Homo sapiens: one gene and its partners. Changing the gene in region 1 together with any one later gene gives a genetic interaction. Each region holds a gene or a part of one and is shown in the gene's direction. Other genes may lie near its edges. The genes, in order: ACACA, MBTD1, OGA, MYO10, SUPT16H, MAP4K4 and CRACD.

Region 1 (3,500 bases):
CAAAGCGAGACTCCATCTCCAAAAAAAAAAAAAAAAAAAATATATATATATATATATATATATATATATATATATATATATATATATGACTTGGGAGTTATGCATATCACTTACCAATGCTGGTGTCCTGTTTGTCAAAACTTAGCCACTAACCAGGCCAGGCATGGTGGCTCACGCCTGTAATCCCAGCACTTTGGTAGGCCAAGGCGAGTAGATCACTTGAGGTCAGGAGTTTGAGACCAGGCTGGCCAACATGGGGAAACCCCATCTCTACCAAAAATACAAAAATTAGCCAGGCATGGTGGCGCATGCCTGTAATCTCAGCTACTTGGGGGGCTGAGGCAGGAGAATCACTTGAACCCGGGAGGCAGAGTTTGCAGTGAGCCACGAGATTGTGCCACTGGACTCCAGCCCAGGAGACAGAGTGAGACTCTGTCTCAAAAAAAAAAAAAAAAATCTAGTCTCTAACTAGTTAGCTATGTTTCTAGGAAGAAGAGGAGCATATTGGAAATACTGGAAACTGGACAAGAGTCTGTCCCCATGTTTTTTTGTCTGCATGCATTTATGTCTGGTGGGGTGAGGTTGCTTTTGATGCAAAGTGAAAAATGCTCTTTTCTCCCGATTTTTCATTGAGTTTTTCATCCTTGTCCAGGGATATTGTATAATAATCAGAAATGTGCTCTCATGTGGCTAAAAGCTTTTGATGGCTCTTATACACACTGAACAGTTGAGTCAGTGAGAGGCTGTAGTGGTCTAGCAGTTGGATAAGGTGAGATACTTATGTTTGCTTATCTCTCTTCTTTGAGTGTGCGGTGAAACTTGCCAAAATGGTGGGTTATGTGAGTGCTGGGACTGTGGAATACCTGTACAGCCAGGATGGCAGCTTCTACTTTCTGGAATTGAATCCTCGGCTGCAGGTAGAGCACCCTTGTACAGAGATGGTGGCTGATGTCAATCTCCCTGCAGCACAGCTCCAGGTGAGTCTCCCTGATCTGGGTTGCAGAGCCTAGAAAAGTCAGAGAGGCCTGAAAAATGGGTTTAACCAGTGTGTGATAAGAGAAAAGCACCTCCTATCTGAGTCACACCTAATGGTCATTTCTCTTTCACCCTGTATGTGTTATGCATGTGTGGTTTGGTTTTCCTGATGTAGTACAGACATAGGAATGTTATTTTTTCTAGCCAGACACATCTGATATAATGTGTCATGTTTTAGAAATAAATGTTAATAATGTATGCTTTATTCAATTATTTAGCTATAGTAAACTTCACAACTTTGTATTATAATTATTCCCTACTCATTTTTGTTTTTTTACTAGTGTTCTTTATTGAAATAATTCTGCATCAGAGATTAGTGGTTGAAGTTTTTCCTTACAAGAGTGTGGTAGCACACATATATTTTTATAATTTGTAAAGTGCTTGCTGTCAATATTATTGTCTTCTCTCAGCCCAGGAAACAAATATTATGGAAAGCAGTAATAGTTAATGATAAGGCTTGATATTATTTTTATCTAACATTTGCCCACATCGAGAACACCTTCTGGGTTCCTATTAAAGACTAAAGATTTACTTACTTCCTCCAGTGGTTTGCAGGGATGGAAGAGATAATTATGACACAATTAAGACTTTCTAGCTGTCTGTTTTTGGATGGCTATTAACATTTACTCCTCTGTTGGATATTTTCATTCTTATTACGTGATGGAGAAATGACAACAGGGGAACTGGTGTCTGTTGCATTAGGAATGTGGGGACTTCTTTAGAAGTGGAGAATATTCTAACTACTTATCTGTAGTGATATATTGTATTTCAAGCAACTTAGAGTTGATGATTGTAGAATACAGGTTATAAAAATAGAATGTTTTAGGGAGTGGCTCCAAAAATAAAAATATTTTAGGTTATCTGATAGCCTCTACACTTTAAGGGAAGTAACTGAAAAATTAAAGATGTGTGTTTTATTACCTTTCAGATTGCCATGGGGATTCCTCTATATAGAATCAAGGATATCCGTATGATGTATGGGGTATCTCCCTGGGGTGATTCTCCCATTGATTTTGAAGATTCTGCACACGTTCCTTGTCCAAGGGGCCATGTTATTGCTGCTCGGATCACTAGTGAAAATCCAGATGAGGTAACCCATCACTTAAAAGGTTTATACCTCCTTTTAATGAACTTTAATGTTAAGATAGTATCTGAAAGTATACTTCTGAAATATCTTGGGACTTCCTCTGGAGTGGGAAACATAGAGGTTTCTCAGAGCAGATAAGTAAATGGTTGTTGCTTCATTGGTTACTTAATCCCACTTAAGTCACTGTAGAGTCTTCAGTGGGTCTGTGGCACTGGGTCTTGGCCTTTATCATTTTTGTGTGTCTTCTCTGCTTCTGTGTGTGATTAACAGAGAACTTAAACAATGAATATATAAATCTTCTCTTCCTTCGAAACATAATATGGTCTCTCATTCTTTATTCTCTAACAGGGTTTTAAGCCCAGCTCAGGAACAGTTCAGGAGCTAAATTTCCGCAGCAATAAGAATGTTTGGGGATATTTCAGTGTTGCTGCTGCAGGGGGACTTCATGAATTTGCTGATTCTCAGTTTGGTCACTGCTTTTCTTGGGGAGAAAACAGAGAAGAGGCAATTTCGTGAGTATAATAGCATTTGATTGCATTTTACAAAATAAATTTGTGCTAATCTTAAGTGAAGGTGTGAGCATGGGAATAGGAATCATCTGCTGTCAAAGTAATAATATGAACAACCTTTTTGAAGAAATTTTGAATATCTTTAATTACACTTGCATTCATGTTGTATTAAATTATGCAGTGCTTGGCAGATGTTTTTCTGTTTGTTGTTCTGAGCCTTTTGAAGTATTTTTCCTTTCAAATATTTTTGATAAATGTATAAAATTGATTGCTTTAAAGGTATCTTATTTTTCCACAGGAACAGTATTGTTATTGAGGGGAGGTAGATTCTTGGCCAAGAACTAGGTATCAAATAAATCATAGACTTTTATTTTATTTTTTTCTTGTGAGAAGACTTAAAATCTATTAGCAATTTTCAAGTACACAATCTATTGTTATGAGCCATAGTCACCATGATGTACTCTTATAGTTATTTAAAATAATAAAATTATACTGCTCATATTATGAAAAGGACATAAAGAAACTGTCTACATTGCTAATACAAGAGACCTTAGCATGCTGTATATAACAGCTTATGCAAATATAACTGCTATATCATAAATGTTAGATAATATTCTGTTAATCATAAACAATGAATATTAAATTAACAGCACTTTTGCTTGCCTAAAACATAGGGCTGAAGGAGGTAATTTTAACAGCTTAGATCTTTTGGAATATCTATCTAAAATTGAAACTTGAACTAGTTCTTTTCTGTTTTTTAATGGTTTATTGCCTTGTATCAAACATTTAATACCATTCCCTTTACCTTTGTACTGTACATGGAGTAGGTAATTAATAAGTGTTTATTAGTATTAATTACTAATAAATAG
Region 2 (3,500 bases), about 14 Mb from region 1:
CATTGTAGTAAACAGAAAAAGAGAGCCACTTTTGCGTTAGACTAAGTAGGCACACCAGTGTTTCTAGAGAGGGGAGGGAAATCTGTGTAACATGGAGGAATTATTGCACTCAGCAGTATAAATCATATAGGCCAGGTGCAGTGGCTCACGCCAATAATCCCAGCACTTTGGGAGACTCAGGTAGGAGGATTGCTTGAGACCAGGAGTTTGAGAACAACCCGGGCAACATAGGGAGACCCTGTCTCTACTAAAAACAACAAAAAATTAGCCTGTCACAGTGGCATGTGCCTGTAGTCCCAGCTACTAGAGAGGCTAAGGCAGGAGGATCACTTGAGCCCTGGAGGTTGAGGCTGCAGTAAGCCTTTGAGGGCACTACTGCACTCCAGCCTGGGCGACAGAGCAAGACCCTGTCTCAAAAAAAATAAAGTTGATCATATAACCTATGCTCTTAAGATTTTTTGTACTGTTACTTTTTGTCTGCATTTTAATATTATGCTAATTTTAAATGAACTGCTAGTTAAACCAGTTGTGTTTTTTAGGTTACACAAAACTTCCTTTTAAATGGTTTGACTACCTCAGGGAAACTGGCTCCATTGCAGCACCAGTAAAACTATTTAATAAGGTAAATTTAAATGGCAGCATAATTATGTGAGGACTTATTAATGCCCCACAAATACAATTTATGTTCATAAAAATGTCTTTGCCTTGTATTAGAATTTCTTAGTGGAGATATAATATAAACAAATATAGCAATGAAACAATATAAATATTTTCTTTACCTAGGAATCAAAACTTGTTTCCAAACTATGTTTCGTTTTTAATCTGAAGGAAATAGAAATGAAGATTTTTCCTAACTAGTTTTTAAATACTTCACCTTCGTACTATGTTTAAATAGTTAAAGAATTATTTGGAATTTATGGTTTATAATTATGTTATTTAGCTAGTCGCTTCTGTTTTTTGCTTTCTTAGTGATAGTAGGGTTGTGCATTCTTTCTTCTTCATACCAATATTAATGTTTTCTTCTCTGTGTCAGGATGTTCCAAATCACGGATTTCGTGTAGGAATGAAATTAGAAGCAGTAGATCTCATGGAGCCACGTTTAATATGTGTAGCCACAGTAACTCGAATTATTCATCGTCTCTTGAGGATACATTTTGATGGATGGGAAGAAGAGTATGATCAGTGGGTAGACTGTGAGTCACCTGACCTCTATCCTGTAGGGTGGTGTCAGTTAACTGGATATCAACTACAGCCTCCAGCATCACAGTGTAAGTTGGTATACAGAAAAGGTGTCCTTTTGTAAAAATCAGCAATTCTCCAGAGGACTATCTCACATAAGTCATCTTATGAGCTCACAGGACAAGAATATACCTATGTCTGATTGGTTGCCAGGTAAGACATTAAGACTCAACAACAATATCACAGAATCAGACCATGTGTCCCATGGCAATGTGAATCCAATAGTCAATTACATAATGACTATAGAAACACAACAGTCACCAAATTAAACTAGACTTACTATTTTAGTGAGTTAAAAATTACATACTAAAAGTTTATTGGTAGGTAATAAATGCTTTTGAGTAAATAGTGGAAAATGTCTCATGTTGAGGCTATGGTTTTGTAGGAACAAGTACCCTTATTTTCAGAGCATCATGTACTTAAGTATAATGGTCTTGGTAAAGATAGTTCATATAAGTTGTATCTAGACAACTGTATCGTCTAAATTGTAAACAATTATCTAGTACCAATTTTCCCTTTTTATTTTTCAGCATCAAGAGAAAACCAATCAGCTTCATCAAAACAGAAGAAAAAGGCTAAGTCCCAGCAATACAAAGGACATAAGAAAAGTGGGTCACCACGTGGTGTTCACATACATTTTCTAATTGTTAACTAATTGGAGTCACAGTATTCTTGGACAGAAAATGATATATCTTGTGAGAACTGATGATTGTGCATTATGTATTATGCTTAAAGGTGCAGTATGCCATAAAAGGCAAACCCTTGCAATAATGAGAAACACTGATATTTTACTAACAGGAGAAATTATTACCACAGTATTTAAAGTATACGTGGTAAAGAATAGAGTCTGTGAATGATTCTTGAAATAATATGTAAAACCTACTGAAAGTTAATCCTTTTTAAAAACTTTATTTAAAAAGAAAAATTAGCAGCCAGGTGCAGTGGCTCACGCCTGTAATCCCAGCACTTTAGGAGGCCGAGGCTGGCAGATCACAAGGTCAGGAGATCGAGACCATCCTGGCTAACACGGTGAAACCCTGTCTCCACCAAAAATACAAAAAATCTGCCGGGCGTGGTGGCACACGCCTGAAGTCCCAGCTACTCAGGAGGCTGAGGCAAGAGAATCACTTGAACCCAGGAGGCAGAGGTTGCAGTGAGCCAAGATCACGCCACTACATTCCAGCTGGGCAACACAGCAAGACTCTGTCTCAAAAAAAAAAAAAAAAATTAGCAGATGCTTGATGCTTACAGTAGATGTGAAGCCTAATAAACCCATTTTTCCTAGAAAGCAAAACTTTCTAGAGTGATACTGGTAAGAAATCCAAGTTGATGGCAAACAAGCTTTACCAAATTTTTCTAGAAATGCTTTCTATACTAAAAAATTAGCCGGGTGTGGTGGTGCACGCCTGTAATCCCAGCTACTTGGGAGGCTGAGGCAGGAGAATTGCTTGAACCCAGGAGGCGGAGGTTGAGGTGAGCCGAGATCGTGCCATTGCACTCTAGCCTGGGCAACAAGAGCAAAACTCCATCTCGAAAAAAAAAAAAAAAAAGAAATTCTTTCTATACTATATTTTACCTTACAGTGAATTGTTGGCATAAGCCAAAGTAATATAAAATATATTGATAACTATGTTTGATTTTTTTTATCTTATTTCCCCACCATAGAAAGCCATAGCTTTCTCTCTTCATAAAACTTGTCATAGAATGTTTCATTCTTTTTTGAGACAAGGCCTTACTTTGTTGCTCAGGCTGGAATGGAGTGCAGTGGCACAATCTCCGCTCACTACAGCCTTAACCTTCCCTGGCTCAAGCAGTCCTCCCACCCCAGCCTCCTGAGTAGCTTGGACCACAGGCATGTGTTGCCACACACCCAGCTAAGTTTTGTATTTTTTTGTAGAGACAGAGTCTTGCCACGTTGCCCAGGCTGGTCTCAAACTTTTGGGCTCAAGCACTCTGCCCACCTCAGCCTCCCAAAGTGCTGGGATTACAGGCATGAGCCACCACACATGGCCATATTTCATTTCATTCTTAGATAAGGTTATATATATATATATATATATTTTTTTTTTTTTTTTTTTTTTTTTTTTTTGAGACAGAGTCTCAGTCTGTCGCCCAGACTGGAATGCAGTGGTATGATCTTGGCTCACTGCAGCCTCGACTTCTCGGGTACAAGCAATTCTCCCACCTCAGCCCCTGGAGTAGCTGGGACTACAGGAGTATACCACCATGCCCAACTCGTTTTTATATTTTTATAGAAATGG
Region 3 (3,500 bases), on another chromosome or scaffold:
AAATAAAGCTCAGTAAAAGACATGTTGTGTTTTCAAAAGAAAAATTGTGGCTGGGTGCATTGGTTCGTGCCTGTAATCCCAGTGCTGTGGGAGGCTTGAGTTGAGGTAGGAGGATCGCTTGAGGCCAGGAGTTTAAGATTAGCCTGGGCAACATAGCAAGCCCTTATCTGTACAAAAAAATTTTAAATTACTGTGACATGGTGGGGCACACCTGTAGTCCCAGCTACTTGGGAGGCTGAGGTGAGAGGATTGCTTGAGCTCAGGAGCTCAAGGCTGCAGTGAGCCATGATTACTCCATTGCACTTCAGCCTGGGTAACAGAGGAGACCCTGTCTCAGAAAAAGAAACGTTGTTATAAAATGTACATGTAAGGGGCCAGGCGCAGTGGCTCACGCCTGTAATCCCAGCACTTTGGGAGGCCGAGGCAGGCGGATCACAGGGTGAGGAGATCGAGACCATCCTGGCTAACACAGTGAAACCCCATCTCTACTAAAAAATACAAAAAATTAGCCAGGCGTGGTGGAGGGCGCCTGTAGTCCCAGCTACTCAGGAGGCTGAAGCAGGAGAATGGTGTGAATCCAGGAGGCGGAGCTTACAGTGAGCCGAGATCACACCACTGTACTCCAGCCTGGGCGACACAGCGAGACTCTGTCTCAAAAAAAAAAAAAAAAAAGTACACGTAAGGAAAACAATAAAAAGTTATATATGCAGTATATTTTAAAGAACCATGATTCTTTTTTTTAAATATATTTTTTAATTTAAAATAAAAAGATAGGGTCTCGCTGTGTTGCCCAGGCTGGTCCGAACTCCTGGGCTCAAATGATCTGCCCACCTCTGCCTCCCAGAGTGCTGGGATTACAGTTATGAGCCAATGCGTCTAGCCAAGAACCATGATTCTTTTAACGAACGGTTGTCGTTATTTCTAGGTCCCAAAGTTGTTTCTAAAGAAATTCCAGTAGAGTCCATCGAAGAGGTTTCTAAGATTATTAAGAGAGCTCCAGTAATCTGGGATAACATTCATGCTAATGATTATGATCAGAAGAGACTGTTTCTGGGCCCGTACAAAGGAAGATCCACAGAACTCATCCCACGGTTAAAAGGAGTCCTCACTAATCCAAATTGTGAATTTGAAGCCAACTACGTTGCTATCCACACCCTTGCCACCTGGTACAAATCAAACATGAATGGAGTGAGAAAAGATGTAGTGATGAGTAAGTAGCCTGTACTTGATCTTTCACCTTGGGAGGAGAGCTGGGGTTAACTAGAGCCAGTGGAAAGTATGCATTCCTTTGTCATCACAACTTAAACAGTTTTATTTATTTTTTTAAAAACGTATTTTGTTTTACTAAGGAGGAAACAAAACCAAGTGGTTTTATTATGGTATGTTGTTTCATTCTGTTGATGAAGATGTATATGATAGAAGAAAGGTTGAGTGTCTTTGGACAAGTCACTTAACCTCTTTGCCTTAGTTTTTTTTTTTTTGTTTTTTTTTTTTTTAGTATGATTCAGAAGCAGCGTGGTGGCTCGCTTATAATCCCAGGAAATGCACTCCAGCCTGGACAACAGATGAAAATCCTATGAAATAAATAAAAATAAAATATGGTTCAGTCTTTGAAGTCTGAGTACTAGAGGAGACAGTCTTTTAAGTGTTTCCATTATCTCTAGAATCATTCGGATAAAATGTATTTTCAGGCAATTTTATTGAAAAGGATATTTTAGATAACTAGATACTCTTGAGTCACTTAGATCATTTAGATTCAGCTTACATTTATCTTTTATGGAACATACTCTTTTTTTTTTTTTTTGAGATGGAGTTTTGCTCCATCGCCCAGGCTGGAGTGCAGTGGCGCAATCTCAGCTCGCTGCAACCTCTGCTTCCCAGGTTCAAGCGATTCTCCAGCCTCAGCCTCCCGAGTAGCTGGGATTGCAGGCACACCCGGCTTTTTTTTTTTTTTTTTTTTTTTTTTAAAGTAGAGACAGGGTTTCACCATCTTGGCCAGACTGGTCTCGAACTCCTGACCTTAGGTGATCCACCTGCCTCGGCCTCCCAGAGTGCTGGGATTACAGGCATGAGCCACCCTGCCTGGCCGAATGGAATACAGTCTTATTTTAGACATTGGCTTACTAATTTTTAATTTATGAAAAATCTCTAATTAATAGAGTTCTAAGTAAGGTGCTTGATAATTATTTACATTTAAATAATCTGTCATGGGGCAGATGCATGTTCATGGGCACTGAGGGGGCAAAGAATAAAGTAGTTTTTTTTTTTTCTTTTTGAGATGGAGTCTTGCTCTTGTTGCCCAGGCTGGAGTGCAGTGGCGCAATCTCAGCTCCCTGCAACCTCCGCCTCCCAGGTTCAAGTGATTCTCCTGTCTCAGCCTCCCGAGTAGCTGGGATTACAGGCATGCGCCACCATGCCTGGCTAATTTTGTATTTTTAGTAGAGACGGGGTTTCTCCATGTCAGGCTGGTCTTGAACTCCTGACCTCAGGTGATCCGCCCTCCTGGGCTTCCCAAAGTGCTGGGATTACAGGCGTGAGCCATCGCGCCCAGCCATTCCTACTTTTGAGAAACAGTCTAGTGTTGGGTAAGGCTTATAGGCAATTGTACTATAGTGTGATAAGTGTTGTAATAGTTTAATTTATAAAGTGCTGTGTGAACACGGGAGAGAGTGATTATTTTTGCTAAGAGATTTCACAGACTTTTAAGCTGGATCAAAGTATGAGGAGAGTTTGCTGGGCGTTAAAGGTTTGTGGGCTGGAGGTTAAAAACACTGAACACTGAAAATTTTTTTTTTTCTTTGAGACAGAGCCTCGCTCTGTTGCCCAGGCTGGAGTGCAGTGGCGCGATCTTGGCTCATTGCAACCTCTGCCTCCCTGGTTCAAGCGAGTCTCTGGCCTCAGCCTCCTGAGTAGCTGGGATTACTGGCGCACACCACCCCATCTGGCTGATTTTTATAGTTTTAGTAGAGACAGGGTTTCACCATGTTGGTCAGGCTGGTCTCGAACTCCTGACCTGGTGATCTGCCTGCCTCTGCCTCCCAGAGTTCTGGGATTACAGGCGTGAGCCACTGTGCCCAGCCTGAACACTGAACTTTTGAAGTTCCCTGAATTTTGGCCCATTTTGGCTACTGAAGTGTCATGATAGTATGTAGTAATATTAATAGTTGTCATCTGTTTCTCAATTCCATACCTCTGCTTTGAATTGTTTATTGAATTAATGTCTCCCTTTTGTTTGGCTCAGTCATTGTCATCCTCCTCCCCTCAATAAAAAACAAATTGGGAATATAATTTAAATGCTGTCAGCGTACATGGCACTTAACTCCTACATCTTTTAAGGCACAGCAAGGAACATACTAAGGGTGGCAGACACTATCCAAACCTGGGACATACGTAGGAAATATTAAGGAAAGCTAAGAATAGAGAGTTTTTAAGTACAAAATCAAAAAATTCAGACTTAATTTTCTCTACCACTATCCTGGCTCAGAGCTTTGTTGCCTTAT
Region 4 (3,500 bases), on another chromosome or scaffold:
AATTGCATCTGTACTGAACATGTAGACTTTTCCCCATGGATTTTGGTATCTGGGGAAGGTCTTGGAACCAGTTCCCTATAGATACATAGGGACAACTGTACTTACCATGTGCCAGGCATGTTGCTGGCACTTCACATTTAGTGACTCATTTAATCCCTTGAACAACCCTATGGGAAAGGCTCTATAATTATACCCAATCCATAGATGAAGAAAGTGAGGCACAGAGAGGTTAAGTAACTGACTCAGTGTCACACAGCTAGAAAACGATAGCCAGGATTTGAACCCAGACAGGCTGTGTCCAGAGCCACAGAGAGTTCTTCACTGCCATGCTTTTCTGTCCTGTTGATGTCCTTTGCCTTAAACTTGCGTCATCTTCTCTAGGCTCTCTGATGAAATGCCCTAAAAGTGGGCAGTTATTAAATGATTTTCAAGTGGAAAACTGCATGGGAGTTTAGGAAAACAAGTAGTCCACACCCTAGAAATGTTGAAAACTCCGCAGGAAAATGTTCATCAGCTTTTGAACATGCCACTGATTTGGCCGGGTGCAGTGGCTCATGCCTGTAATCCCAGCACTTTGGGAGGCCGAGGTGGGCGGATCACGAGGTCAGGAGATGGAGACCATCCTGGCTAACACGGTGAAACCCCCATCTCTACTAAAAATACAAAAAATGAGCCGGGCATGGTGGCGGGCACCTGTAGTCCCAGCTACTCGGGAGGCTGAGGCAGGAGAAGGGCGTGAACCCAGGAGGCGGAGCTTGCAGTGAGCTGAGATCGCGCCACTGCACTCCAGCCTGGGCGACAGAGCAAGACTCCGTCTCAAAAAAAAACCAAAAAAAAAACATGCCACTAATTTTTATTTGATTTGCTTTTTTTGGGAAAGCCAAGCGCCTTCTGTTTCCTTCTAAAAATGTGTGTGTGTGTTTTTGTTGTTGTTGTTGTTTTTTGAGATGGAGTCTTGCTCTGTCGCCCAGGCTGGAGTGCAATGGTGTGATCTCGGCTCACTGCAACCTCCACCTCCCAGGTTCAAGCGATTCTCCTGCCTTAGCCTCCCAAGTAGCTGGGACTACAGGCGCCTGCCACCACACCCGGCTAATTTTTGATATTTTTAGTAGAGATGGGGTTTCACCTTGTTGGCCAGAATGGTCTCGATTTCCAGACCTTGTGATCCACCCGTCACAGCCTCCCAAAGTGCTGGGATTACAGGTGTGAGCCGTCATGCCCGGCCCATAAAGTGTGGTTTCTAAAGCTGGTTGTCCCAACTTCATGAGGATAGTAGGAAGGTTTACATACTAAAGCACTTAGGGCCATGTGCTCATGCCTGTAATCCCAGCACTTTGGGAGGCCGAGGCAGGTGGATACCTGAGGTCAGGAGTTCGAGACCAGCCTGGGCAACATAGTGAAACCCTGTCTCTAATAAAATCCAAAAATTAGCTGGGCGTGGTGACATGGGCCTGTAATCGCAACTACTTGGAAGGCTGAGGCAGGAGAATCGGTTGAATCCGGGAGGTGAAGATTACGGTGAGCCACTGCACTCCAGCCTGGGTGACAGAGGGAGACTGTCTCCAAAATTGTAATAGTAATAATAAAAATATTAAAACAAAATAAAGCACTTAGAAAACAAGATGATTTGAGAAGTGTTTATTAAAAGAAAATGTGGGACTCATTTGTTTCCCTAATTCCAGCTGTCAATTAATTAGTGAAGTGTTACTTGAGGTTTTTTGATAGAATCTTCTTTTTCAGTTAAAGATTCTGAGTGCTTTGTTGGAGTTTCTTCATATCACCTATCATTTGCTTGTTAGCTTATCGATACCCATGGAACAGTTATTGACAGGACATTGGGTCGTTTTCCCAAGAGCATTCCTTGAATAAAACATTTTGCTGCCTTGCTAAGAGGTGTTCAGAAAATATTTCCACCAGGCCTAAAGTAAATCTAGCACCTCATGTCACATGACATCATGTCATCTAATGCTGCCAGTTACAGGAAAAGACATTAGAGTTTTGGGGACAAAGCCACAACACATCTGTTGAAATACAGCTAGAACAAGGGAGAAACATATGGGAATTGTCCAACTAATAGCTCTACCTTCACCCAGTCCGACTCCCTGCCTGCTCTTAAGGATTAAAATTGCCTCCGTATAAAAGCATTTTAAATTACGGCAGTTAAAGGCCGGGCGCGGTGGCTCAAGCCTGTAATCTCAGCACTTTGGGAGGCCGAGGCAGGAGGATCACGAGGTCAGGAGATCCAGACCATCCTGGCTAACATGGTGAAACCCCGTCTCTACTAAAAATACAAAAAACTAGCTGGGCGTGGTGGCTGGCACCTGTAGTCCCAGCTACTCGGGAGGATGAGGCAGGAGAATGGCATGAACCTGGGAGGCGGAGCTTCCAGTGAGCCGAGATTGTGCCACTGCACTCCAGCCTGGGCAACAGAGCAAGACTCCATCTCAATAAATAAATAAATAAACAAACAAACAAAAGAAAATACCATAAGCAGAAGACACAAAGAAGCTCCCATGGTGTGGCTCTTCATGTTTGTGGTAGATGCATTGAGACTTTTTTTTTATGCCTTCATATATATGTTTCTGATAAAACACACCTGTAATGTTTTTCACTGAAGAGTTGATTGAGAAAAGCTTTAAATATCATTTGTGGGGCCAGAGGCAAGAGTACAAATTCAGTTCCCATATCACATACCTAAACATTTAAAAGTTATAAACCATGCTTACAAATTGGTAAATAAAATGGCTTCTACTCTGCCTGGACAAATACATCTGTCATTAGGGCAGAATCAACAAACATGTTTAAAGCTATGGGTTTTATTGCTGAAAGTCAGCAAAATATCAAACATGAGTGAATTTAATTACAGTTGCCTATGTCTGGGTGTTCTGTTGATGTTTCATGAGTAATAAATACGTATACTCCATAGTATATTTTTCATAAATCTATTTTTTTGTCCATATTTTAGCAAACTCACTTGTTATGTGGTTAGAGTCAAGATTGTCACAATAGTTTGTTTTACGGACAGTAATACCAAGGTGGAGAACCTTTCTTTGTGGTTCTTAGATTGTTCTTTTTTTTTTTTTTGCTGGGACAGAGTCTTCCTCTTTCGCCCAGGCTGGAGTGTAGTGGCGCAATTTTGGCTCACTGCAACCTCCACCTCCCGAGTTCAAGCAATCCTTCTGCCTCAGCCTCCCACGTAGCTGGGATTACAAGTGTGTGCCACCATGCCTGGCTAATTTTTGTATTTACAGTAGAGACGGGGTTTCATCATGTTGGCCAGGCTGATCTGAAGCTTGTGACCTCAATTGATCCACTAGCCTTGGCCTCCGGAAGTTCTGGGATTACAGGCGTGAGCCACCCCACCTGGCCAGATTGTTCTTTTCTTAATCTAAGTCTAGAGATGGCCTGCTTTGCTGAGGCAGGACAGTAGTTACTGACATTGTCAGCGAAATTCATACAGCACTATTTAGATTAAAAAAAGAATGAGATTGCATATGATA
Region 5 (3,500 bases), on another chromosome or scaffold:
CTCCTTTTAATTCTAGGATGGCCCAGCTACTGTTCTCACTTCTGTGAAGAAGAAAGTGAAGAATGTGGGGATTTTCCTAAAGGTAGGAAGAAGATAGATAAGTAGTATAGGAAGTTTAGGATATAAAGAAGTTAAATAATATTGGCTAAAATAATTAAAATTTCATTTTTTGATTATGACTTTTTCCATAGAATGAAGATGAGGAAGAAGAGGAGGAGGAGAAAGATGAGGCAGAGGACCTTTTGGGAAGAGGTTCTCGGGCAGCATTACTTACAGAAAGAACAAGAGTAAGTTTACTATTTTAAATTACATTGATCTCGGCTGTCATATGGCTCACGTGTTGTGATAAATTGGATTTTCCATTCACCAGAATGAAATGACTGCAGAAGAGAAGCGAAGAGCACATCAGAAAGAACTAGCGGCTCAACTCAATGAAGAAGCAAAGAGGCGATTGACTGAACAAAAGGGAGAACAGCAGATTCAGAAGTAAGAGTTTTCACTGAGCAGTGAGATCATCTGAGGGTTCTGTGGGACTGCAGAAATTTCTCAGTTGTTTTTTTATCCCACTCCAGAGCTCGCAAGTCTAATGTGTCCTATAAAAACCCATCTCTGATGCCTAAGGAACCACATATTCGGGAAATGAAGATCTACATCGATAAGAAATATGAGACTGTAATAATGCCCGTGTTTGGCATTGCAACACCGTTTCACATTGCCACAATCAAGGTACTGACATTCAGTGCATCAGGTTTCATCCAAACTGTTGCTTAAAATAGTAATTGTATTTGCCATAAATAATCTGCATTCATCATGTCTCCCACTTTTGACTCCTTCAGACTCTGTTCAGTTACTGACATCCCTCTTGTCTTGTCATTCTCCTTCCTCTTTCAGTTTTTTTCACTTAGTAGAAAGCTAAACTAGTCTAGAAACATAATTTGCCTATCTTTCTTTCAACTTCGTTTAATCATTGTTTAACTTTTAGTTGTATTCATGGTACAAGGTACTTTGAGAATTCAGAGATTTTTTTGGGAAAAGGATACTTCGTTATTAAAAAGATAAATTATGTAAATTTATTAGATTTAGATTAAGGTTAAGAGCGGTCAATTTGTAACTCCTAACTTAATTTTAACATCTCTGTAACTACTAATCTCTAGGAAAGAAATCTGTTTACTTTTTATGCTTTTCCTTTGAACAGAATATAAGTATGTCCGTGGAAGGAGATTATACTTACTTGCGAATCAACTTTTATTGCCCAGGCAGTGCTCTGGGCAGGAATGAAGGCAACATCTTTCCTAACCCTGAAGCGACTTTTGTCAAGGAAATGTGAGTCCCCAAGAAAAGTCATACCCAGATTCATCTTGTCTGGAGTGGTACTCTCAGAAACATTTCATTGTCTGTGCTACATTTTCCCTACCTAGTAAATGTCAAAGCCTTCCTCATTGGTACTTGTTTCGGATCGCCTTCTTGACTTTGTACTATTTTCAGGATGGATCCCAATTTAGAATCTTCTTGAAGATACTATATATTTACTAAACATATTTTGAGCCTGGGTAATATAGTGAGACCTTGTCTCTTCTAAAAAATAATTAACCAGGGGTGGTGGTGTGCACCCGTCATCCAGCTACTGTGGAGGCTGAGGTGAGAGGATTCCTTGAGCCTGGGAGGTTGAGGCTGCAGTGAGCCCTGATCTTGCCTGTACTCCATCCAGCCTGAGCAACAGAACGAGACCTTGTCTCAAAAAAAAAATAATTATGAAAATAAGTGTTAAAAGTAATAAACATATATTGCAGTAGAATCTTCAAATAAGAAAACTGGTGCCACATTGGATTCTATGATTTCATGGTGTGAAATGGGATAATTTGGGGATGTTATACCAGATTTGAAAAATGAAAAAAGAAGGAATGGGCATGCATGGTGGCTCACGCCTGTAATCCCAGCACTTCGGGAGGCAGAGGCAGGCAGATTACATGAGGCCAGGAGTTCAAGACCAGCCTGGTCAACATGGCAAAACCCTGTATCTGCTAAAAATACAAAAACTAGCCGGGCATGGTGGTGTGTACCTGTAATCCCAGGTACTTGGAAGGCTGAGGTGGGAGGATGGCTTGAACCCAGGAGGCGAAGGTTGCAGTGAGCTAAGATTGGGCCACTGCACTCCAGCCTGGGTGACAGAGGCACACCCTGTCTCAAAAAAAAAAAAAAAAAAAAAAAGCAAAGTAGAGATTAAGCTGCTTAGAAGATAAAGTAAATCAGTACAATTTCCCTGGCCTGAAAAAGAAATGTCTATAAATGCTGTTGCTTTTCTGCAGTACATACCGAGCATCAAATATTAAGGCACCCGGAGAACAGACAGTACCAGCCTTGAACCTTCAGAATGCTTTCCGAATTATTAAAGAAGTACAGAAACGTTATAAAACTCGAGAAGCTGAAGAGAAAGAGAAGGAGGTGAGCCTGAACACAGGCAAAACATTCTTACACAAAGAAGGACATGTATTTTTTGGAGACTTGTAAGGATATGTGACAATTCACATTAATTTTCTTCTTGCTTAGGGGATTGTAAAACAAGACTCACTGGTGATCAATCTAAACCGGAGTAATCCGAAACTGAAAGATCTATACATTCGCCCAAATATTGCCCAAAAGAGGATGCAAGGCTCACTGGAGGCCCATGTCAATGGTATGGATGATCTCTCCTGTACCTAGGCTTTCTCTTCAGGGCACATTTGTTAGGAATGACAGATCAGATAATAAAATATGACAAAGAGCCATCCGCCGGTTAGCTCAGTTGGTTAAAGCATGGTGCTAATAAAGTATGACAAGGAAATGCTGGGAGGAATCTACTTACACTGCTGTGTGGCCAGAAGGAAAGGAAAGCTCTATACAGCTGTTGGTGTTTCCTCTGACCCTGTGCAAATCAGCCAGAAGAGTTGCAGTGCCTTTTGGCCTAACTTAATTATACTGCTTGACATTTCTTCATTCTTTTCCCCAGGCTTCCGCTTCACATCTGTTCGAGGAGACAAAGTGGATATTTTGTACAATAATATTAAGCATGCTTTGTTCCAGCCCTGTGATGGAGAAATGATTATTGTCTTGCACTTTCACCTCAAGGTATACCTTTCTACTTAACTAGCTGTCAGCTCTTGGGCAAGACACTTCATTTCACTCAGCTTCTTTCCTATAAAATAGTGATGAAAGGGCTGGGCGCGGTGGCTCATGCCCACAATCCCAGCACTTTGGGAGGCCGAGGTGGGTGGATCACCTGAGGTCGGGAGTTCGACACCAGCCTGACCAACATGATGAAACCCCGTCTCTACTAAAAATACAAAAATTAGCCAGGCGTAGTGGCCAGCGCCTGTAATCCCAGCTACTTGAGAGGCCGAGGCAGGAAAATTGCTTGAACCTGGGAGGCGGAAGTTGCAGTGAGCCGAGATCGCGCCATTGTACTCCAGCCTGGGCGACAGCGTGTGAAAAACAAAAAACAAAAAAGTGATGAAAAAATCACC
Region 6 (3,500 bases), on another chromosome or scaffold:
CTCAGGGTCGCAGTGTCTCTTCATGTGTCACAGACTTGTCCATGAATGTGGCAGGTTGTGAACAGTCGGTGAAGTGAGATGTCAGTGGCATCCTAGTGCTCACTTCACTCCTTTCATTTTAATGTAGGTTTGAAGTTTTTTTTTTTTCAGTATGAGGTAAAATTCTAGATCAACAAATGTATATACACAGATCCTTGAGCTTTGGTGTAAAGACACATGTCTATATGACAAAGTCTTCTTTAAAGGGGTCAGTCCAGAAAGCAAGCCTCTAGTTAAATAAGCCTGATTTAAAGAGTTTTGGGAGGGAAGTTATGTTTCTACAACTTTTATTAATAAAATATTAAACCTAAAATGTTGATTTTAGTAAAATATTAATATTTATTACTAAAATTTCATAAATATCCTATAACTAGTAAATAAAAACATTAAATATTAAACCTTAGCGCTTTGAAGTTTTTAATAATAAAAGTTGAAGTAAAATAAAAATGTGTCTCTCAAAACCTTTTTTATGAGTCTAAAGAAGACTTTGTCATGTAGGGAGATCTCCTTACAACAAAGTCCAAGAGTCTGTGTATATACATTTGTTGATCTAGAATTTTACCTCATATTAAAAAACAACAGTAATACTATCAGCTTAACATAAGCAGATCTTTTTTTTATTGTCATGGGATTTGAACTGTATATGACATCTTTGACTTTTTTTTGGTGTCTTCTATTTTTTTTTTTTAATCTCTCTCTTGACTTTATTTGGTCTTTTCTATCAAAAGCCATAGGAGCTCACTTTCTCATGAAACTGGGTAACTATAAAAGTCTTACAAAACTGACATTGTGGCAATTTATGGTTAAAGAACTTCTCATCTTCTCCTGTCCCTGCTCCTGCTTGCCTTACTCTCTCTTTTCTGTCCTTTGCTTTAGGATCTGACCGCACTGGCCAAAGAGCTTCGAGCAGTGGAAGATGTACGGCCACCTCACAAAGTAACGGACTACTCCTCATCCAGTGAGGAGTCGGGGACGACGGATGAGGAGGACGACGATGTGGAGCAGGAAGGGGCTGACGAGTCCACCTCAGGACCAGAGGACACCAGAGCAGCGTCAGTCCCCGGTCTCTTTTAGAGCGGATGAGAGTATTCTCTCAGAGCCTGCTTTCCACTGGGACCTAGTTGTTCCTAGACTATTCCGTGACCCCATGAGCACTTACTATGTAGTTCTCGTGGATTCAGCAGCAGGTCGCCTTGTGTTTCCCCTTCTCTTCGTTGGTGTGTGCATATGTCAGTGCTTCCCCCAGCACCCCAGCGTGTACTTTATTTTTTCCTTTTGATTTGAGGATATATGATCCAGGGGAAATTTCAGTTTGGTATAACTACTTTAATTAGCCATAATTATTCATTCTAAGTTTTTGCTCAGAAACAAATGGCACTGGAAAGAAATTCTTTGTTAAAGGGAGAAAGCTAAGCAGTTGCTTTTTTGGAGGAGGCTTTATATCGGTAGCCTCATCTCATGTTTTGATTTTGAGAAGGCGAAAAGCCTAAACAGGATCTCCTTGACTCCAGAGATTAAGGCCTTTCACGTCTGGATTTTTTCTCCATAGGTCATCTCTGAATTTGAGCAATGGTGAAACGGAATCTGTGAAAACCATGATTGTCCATGATGATGTAGAAAGTGAGCCGGCCATGACCCCATCCAAGGAGGGCACTCTAATCGTCCGCCAGGTACCCGTGTCTTCTCTGTTGTCAGAGGCTGAGCTTCTCCTGTGGTCATTAACCCACTTGCTCATTCACTCACTCATGCTGTTTCTCCATCATCATCTGTTTTCATGTTAACAAGTCCCAGAGGGTCAAGTGTCGAGTGTCGGGGGCTAGGGAGGCAGGTGTGTACTGCATGCCCAGAAGGTAGCGAGTAGTCTCCACCCCACATCGCTGCTCCTCTGCATGTCTGCGGCAGCCCTCATTCAAGCACCGCGCTGAGTCTCACAGTCTATGTCTGAGCGGGAGAGAAGCCACAGGGAGTCCTTAAACAGGCTCACAGAGTGAGGAAGCAGGTCTGGAGTCTGGCAGAGCAGCCACCATGGCTCTGCAGAGCACGCTGGGCTCTGAGTGTCTGCAGTGCCACAGTGGGAGCGGGTGAGGCAGGCAGGACGAGCCTCATCACAGGCCCAGAGACTCGGAGAGCAGAAGGGTTCGGGAGGTTTCTCTTCTATGTTCCAAAATGTTAGTTTTCTCACTTGTTGAATAATTAAATGTGTGCCACCCAGATATGCTCAGTTTGGATCACTAAGCTTTATAACTGTCTGTTCATTTCTTAGCTTAGACTTAATTAAAGTGATACGCTTCTCATTTAAATAGAACAGGGCACCTATTTAGTATTTTGGACTTTGCCCTAAGTGTGTTTCATGCTATGGCAATGCATTCGGATGGAAAGTAGGAAGAATGTGGAAAAGACCAGGATTCAGAGAATCCACAGGTACTTTCTGGAGCTTTGCAAAGAAAGATTTAAAAAGAAAAAAAAAAGGATACTGGTTTTGGTAACAGAAGCTAGCGCAACAGATAAACCAGATTAAACACTCACTGCTCGAGCCGTGCAGCCACCAGATTAGGTACTTTGAATTCTGTTGGCACAAGTTAGGCATTTGGTGAGGAAGTGTGAGCAGTTCAGGCTAATTTCTTTGGTTTTTCCTTGGTAATTTAGCAGAGTTTATAAGTCACACAGCACCTTAAAGCAGTTATCAATAGGGCCATAGGCAATTTTAGCAGCGCTTGAGCGAGACAAGTGTGCCTGTTTTTTCTACAGAGTACAGTTGACCAAAAGCGTGCCAGCCATCATGAGAGCAATGGCTTTGCCGGTCGCATTCACCTCTTGCCAGATCTCTTACAGCAAAGCCATTCCTCCTCCACTTCCTCCACCTCCTCCTCCCCATCCTCCAGCCAGCCGACACCCACCATGTCCCCACAGACACCCCAGGACAAGCTCACTGCTAATGAGGTATGTCTCGCACCACAGCTGGCTGCTTTCCTGGGGTTAGACCAGCACTGCCTAGGAGTTAGTTTGCAAAGGAGACCTTTCCAACACCCTCACCCCTTCCCTTCCCACCCTGCTTTCTCTGTCACCTACCCTTCTCCCCAACCCCAAGTAACATGTTTCAGATCTGCATATAAACCCCTTAACCCTAGATCAGCTCCCCCAAACTTGCCAGTTCACTGTTTACTGTTCTGTAGATAAGTATAGTTGCATGGCTTTATCTAGTTTATTTTTTAAAAATCTAAATAAAATGATTGCTCTGTCCTCAGACCGGTATTATGTATTTGGCATGAAATTCTTATAGTCATTTGTGGAATCTGCCTTTTTCATTCTTTTTATCCAATAAATAAAATATAGGAAGATTCGGTTCAGCAGGCTTGGCCTTATCTGGACAAACTTATTATCCTGTACAGGAATCTCTTTCAAACAGAACTGATTTTTTTTTTTTTTCTTGTTTGGGGGGTGGGTTGTTGGCTGATTACTCT
Region 7 (3,500 bases), on another chromosome or scaffold:
TCACTGTGTTGCCCAGGCTGGTCTCAAGCAATCCTCCTGCCTTGGCCTCCCAAAATACTAGGATTACAGGCATGAACCACTGCGCCCAGCCTAAACTTTTATTTTTGCACAGTAAGAGATGCATTTTACTTTGCCACCCAGTATACAGATACATTGTAAATATCTGTAATTAAAAAATTCATGAAGTAATGCTTAGACTTTGAATGTGCAATGCATTCTTATATTTTTTATTCTATTTTATTTAAAAAATGTTGGTTGAGATCGCTAAATGATTTCACATCCCATTAATGGGTCAGGAACTACGCTTTGAAAAGCACTAATGCTAAGGATAATCAGGTTAAGTGCATTTAAGAAAGCTGTTGTTGAATCTTTATTTCTTTTCTTCAAATGGTTTACAACATCAATTGGAGTTTGAATACTAAATTACATTTAAAAATAAGTTCTTAAACATTTCTTGGGAATTACCATCATTTATTGAATATTTCTCATGGTCACGTTACTGTGTGCTAAGTAGTCTATTTATATATGTTATCTAATTTAGTTCTCACAACAGCCCTGTAAGTAGGCCTTGTGTTTACATTTGATAATTGAAATTAAGACTCAGAGAGCTTTTTATTAACTTGCCCAAGGTCCTAAATTTAGAGAGGGATGAAGCAAAGATTCAAACTGAGTTCTCTCTGATCCCAAAGCCTGTCTGCCCTCTTAACCCCCATGGTTTTCTGATGTTCCCTCATAGTGATTTCTGAAGATGTTTCATTTCTTCCTTAACATAAATTTGAATGTCGATATTGAGAATTTACCCATTGTGGTACATCTTTTGTAGTTTCCTTTGAAATGACTCATTTCAAGTCAGTTTTCAACTTAGGGAAGTTAAGGAAGCATAACGTAATTCTTTCTGGCTTTAGCTGGTCTTTGATGTAAATATTTTGTAAGAGCTTCTCAGGTTTTTGTGATAGAGTCAATTAATTGGTCATTTTTATTGAGCATCCAAAGGTTTAATATATCTTCCTAAGAGACATGAAATAGCTGTGTAACTATAAAAAGACTTCATTACGAATGAATGTCGGCTTTTGTTAAGGCACAAAATGAAGCCTTACAAGCTACAAAAGAGTACTTCATAGTGTATTGATTGGTCTTAAAATCACAAGGTGCTAAAAGTATTTACTTTGTAAAGTACTTTAAGAAACCACCACCAAGTATCCTATTAGCGTTTTTTGTTTTTTGGTTTTTCAGTTCTTTACACGTTTCCTATGTGTATTTGTAGCAGTATTTTAATTTTAATATTTTGATATTTCTAGGACTTCCCTCTTTGAAACACATTGTCAGGAAGAATTAAGGCGTTTTTCAGGAAATATATTTTATAAATAATACTTAGAATACACAAATAGATGCTTTTATATAATAAAGGCAAATTTCACTTTTTTTTTACATTTATATCTTCTACATTAAAACACCTATGGTGTCTGGTTTGCATTATTGCTATTATATGTAGGAGTGTAACTCATAAATAACATGATTACCAGGTGCCTAAAAATGTATAAATATGCCACTGCTCTTGCATTATAGCTTTGGATACTCCTGTGTGCATGAGGCTTTAAACTTTTAACCATATATTTAAACAGTTTATTTGTTGAATTAAGGTTAGTGTTTTCAAAGCTGACAATTTAAAAATCTGAATTTGTGTAGATCATGATGATATGTTAGACAAAGAACAGTAGTTTCATGGTTTATTTATGTGGTTTGAGTAGCCATATATTTCTGTTCATCAGTCTTTTTAAATTAAGATTTGATGTAAACAAATATAGATATAATTGCATTTATTTTTGAACATCAGATTTCATCCTTAGGCTGGCCCTCAAAATATACTTTGCAGCTAATGAAATTGTGTAAAGTTGCAGCAAGCCTGTGTTTTATGCGTATTTATTAATTCTGTCTACTACTTGACCCTTAGTGGATTGTTACAGTTTTTGTGAGCATCAGGACATGGCCCACTTATTGGGTGGTCATTGTAATTTGTATGTTCAGGCAGATACAAAACTTGGCTACCTTTACATTTTGTGTCCTGTTTATTCTTTTATTCATTTATGTTTTTATTTATGTATTTCTAGGGTCTTGCTCTGTCACCCAGGCTGGAGTGCAGTGATGTAACCATGGCTCACTGCAGCCTCTACCTCCTGGGCTCAAGTGATCCTCCTAGCTCAGCCTCCTGAATAGCTGGGACCATAGGCGCATGCCACCACATCTGGTTAATTATTTTTTGTAGAGATGTGGTCTCTCTCTGTTTCCTAGGCTGGTCATGAACTCTTGGGCTCAAGTGATCTACCTGCCTTGCCTCAGCCTCCCAAAGTGCTGGGATTACAAGCGTGAGCCGCCACTCAGTGGCTCCTTTTTATCCTGATGTGAAAATTCATAGAGATAAGAACGAAATCAATTTAGATATTAATTTATTCTGGTGGCTTTAAGGCAGATGCATATGCATATTTTAGGTTTACATAGATGTATGATTTTCACACATATATGAGAAGTACCAGATTATAAACTCTTCTCTAAAGTAAAGAAATACATATTAAGTAACTTTGTGGAAATAAAAAAACTGAGTAACAACCCTGAAGAGATGTTTTTATAGTCACATGTTGTCAGCCTTATAGTCACATGTTATCAGACATATTTAAGAAGCCAAATAGAACAACCATATGTAAAAGCTTTTATATGTGAAAAAGTGATACCATTTAAAATGTCAGAAATGGAAACATAAATATTTCAGTCAGATTTTTAAAGTCTTCACCAGGTCTTTCAGATGTTTCCAGTGTTTTTCAAGTGGCGTACTTAGGGGATTGAGAAGAAATGTCGAAAAACTTGCTTTTGAAACTGGTACTGTATTCAATATGAATTGAGGAAAAGACACAGAAGCTGCATCCCTGAAACACTTTAAAAAATATTTAAATCAGAAGTAAATTTAGCCCACTAGAAACGGTTGTTAGAATAGAGTTTAAGAGCAGGTAGCAGCTGCTAAGAGGAATTAGAAAAAGGAAGGACAAGTTGCTAAAAAGGCATTTTGTTTTTACCAGGGAAGGTAAGAACGATCTTATCTGGAGGCTCACTGGCCTCACCCCACTCACCTGGGGAGGGATTGGCTGGCAAGAAGGAAGATAAGGAGACAGGGAGCGGGAAACAGGTTGTCTGAAAACTTGATTATTATTTAAATCTAGGATAAGCCGGATTCAAGGAATAATCAGCGAAAATTCTTGTATATAATTGTTAACCCCTTGTTAACAATGGGCTGTTTCCTCACTTGGGAGAAATAAAAAGGAGAGGCCATAGTCCCAAGATCACCATTTGTGAAAGAGGAAACATTACTCCAAACCCCATTGCCAATACCATTTATGGTCTCGGGTGGGGGCCACAGCTCATGTTCTTAGGGAAGATTGTGACAGATCCAGCAGGGCTGTTAAGACACTGCTGGTGAATTCCAGGCTGCCCTAAATGATTGCAGTCAGGAT

Evidence for each region.
Region 2: changes in ACACA (region 1) and MBTD1 together harm fitness more than expected from each alone (negative genetic interaction), as found in Homo sapiens cells (one large-scale study listed by BioGRID).
Region 3: changes in ACACA (region 1) and OGA together harm fitness less than expected from each alone (positive genetic interaction), as found in Homo sapiens cells (one large-scale study listed by BioGRID).
Region 4: changes in ACACA (region 1) and MYO10 together harm fitness more than expected from each alone (negative genetic interaction), as found in Homo sapiens cells (one large-scale study listed by BioGRID).
Region 5: changes in ACACA (region 1) and SUPT16H together harm fitness more than expected from each alone (negative genetic interaction), as found in Homo sapiens cells (one large-scale study listed by BioGRID).
Region 6: changes in ACACA (region 1) and MAP4K4 together harm fitness more than expected from each alone (negative genetic interaction), as found in Homo sapiens cells (one large-scale study listed by BioGRID).
Region 7: changes in ACACA (region 1) and CRACD together harm fitness less than expected from each alone (positive genetic interaction), as found in Homo sapiens cells (one large-scale study listed by BioGRID).

Annotation. Positions count from the first base shown.
Region 1 is NC_000017.11:37,256,837-37,260,336, reverse strand, and holds part of ACACA (acetyl-CoA carboxylase 1), read left to right. Parts: intron 1-806; coding exon 807-977; intron 978-1,963; coding exon 1,964-2,125; intron 2,126-2,470; coding exon 2,471-2,634; intron 2,635-3,500. UniProt on the Homo sapiens protein: Cytosolic enzyme that catalyzes the carboxylation of acetyl-CoA to malonyl-CoA, the first and rate-limiting step of de novo fatty acid biosynthesis.
Region 2 is NC_000017.11:51,190,550-51,194,049, reverse strand, and holds part of MBTD1 (MBT domain-containing protein 1), read left to right. Parts: intron 1-539; coding exon 540-622; intron 623-1,033; coding exon 1,034-1,268; intron 1,269-1,769; coding exon 1,770-1,847; intron 1,848-3,500. UniProt on the Homo sapiens protein: Chromatin reader component of the NuA4 histone acetyltransferase complex, a multiprotein complex involved in transcriptional activation of select genes principally by acetylation of nucleosomal histones H4 and H2A.
Region 3 is NC_000010.11:101,801,445-101,804,944, reverse strand, and holds part of OGA (protein O-GlcNAcase), read left to right. Parts: intron 1-925; coding exon 926-1,210; intron 1,211-3,500.
Region 4 is NC_000005.10:16,926,289-16,929,788, reverse strand, and holds part of MYO10 (unconventional myosin-X), read left to right. Parts: intron 1-3,500. UniProt on the Homo sapiens protein: Myosins are actin-based motor molecules with ATPase activity. Unconventional myosins serve in intracellular movements. MYO10 binds to actin filaments and actin bundles and functions as a plus end-directed motor.
Region 5 is NC_000014.9:21,360,020-21,363,519, reverse strand, and holds part of SUPT16H (FACT complex subunit SPT16), read left to right. Parts: intron 1-16; coding exon 17-82; intron 83-191; coding exon 192-287; intron 288-370; coding exon 371-486; intron 487-572; coding exon 573-726; intron 727-1,195; coding exon 1,196-1,323; intron 1,324-2,306; coding exon 2,307-2,442; intron 2,443-2,547; coding exon 2,548-2,674; intron 2,675-2,986; coding exon 2,987-3,105; intron 3,106-3,500. UniProt on the Homo sapiens protein: Component of the FACT complex, a general chromatin factor that acts to reorganize nucleosomes. The FACT complex is involved in multiple processes that require DNA as a template such as mRNA elongation, DNA replication and DNA repair.
Region 6 is NC_000002.12:101,868,707-101,872,206, forward strand, and holds part of MAP4K4 (mitogen-activated protein kinase kinase kinase kinase 4), read left to right. Parts: intron 1-915; coding exon 916-1,091; intron 1,092-1,588; coding exon 1,589-1,709; intron 1,710-2,787; coding exon 2,788-2,979; intron 2,980-3,500.
Region 7 is NC_000004.12:56,052,098-56,055,597, forward strand, and holds part of CRACD (capping protein-inhibiting regulator of actin dynamics), read left to right. Parts: intron 1-3,500. UniProt on the Homo sapiens protein: Involved in epithelial cell integrity by acting on the maintenance of the actin cytoskeleton. Positively regulates the actin polymerization, by inhibiting the interaction of actin-capping proteins with actin.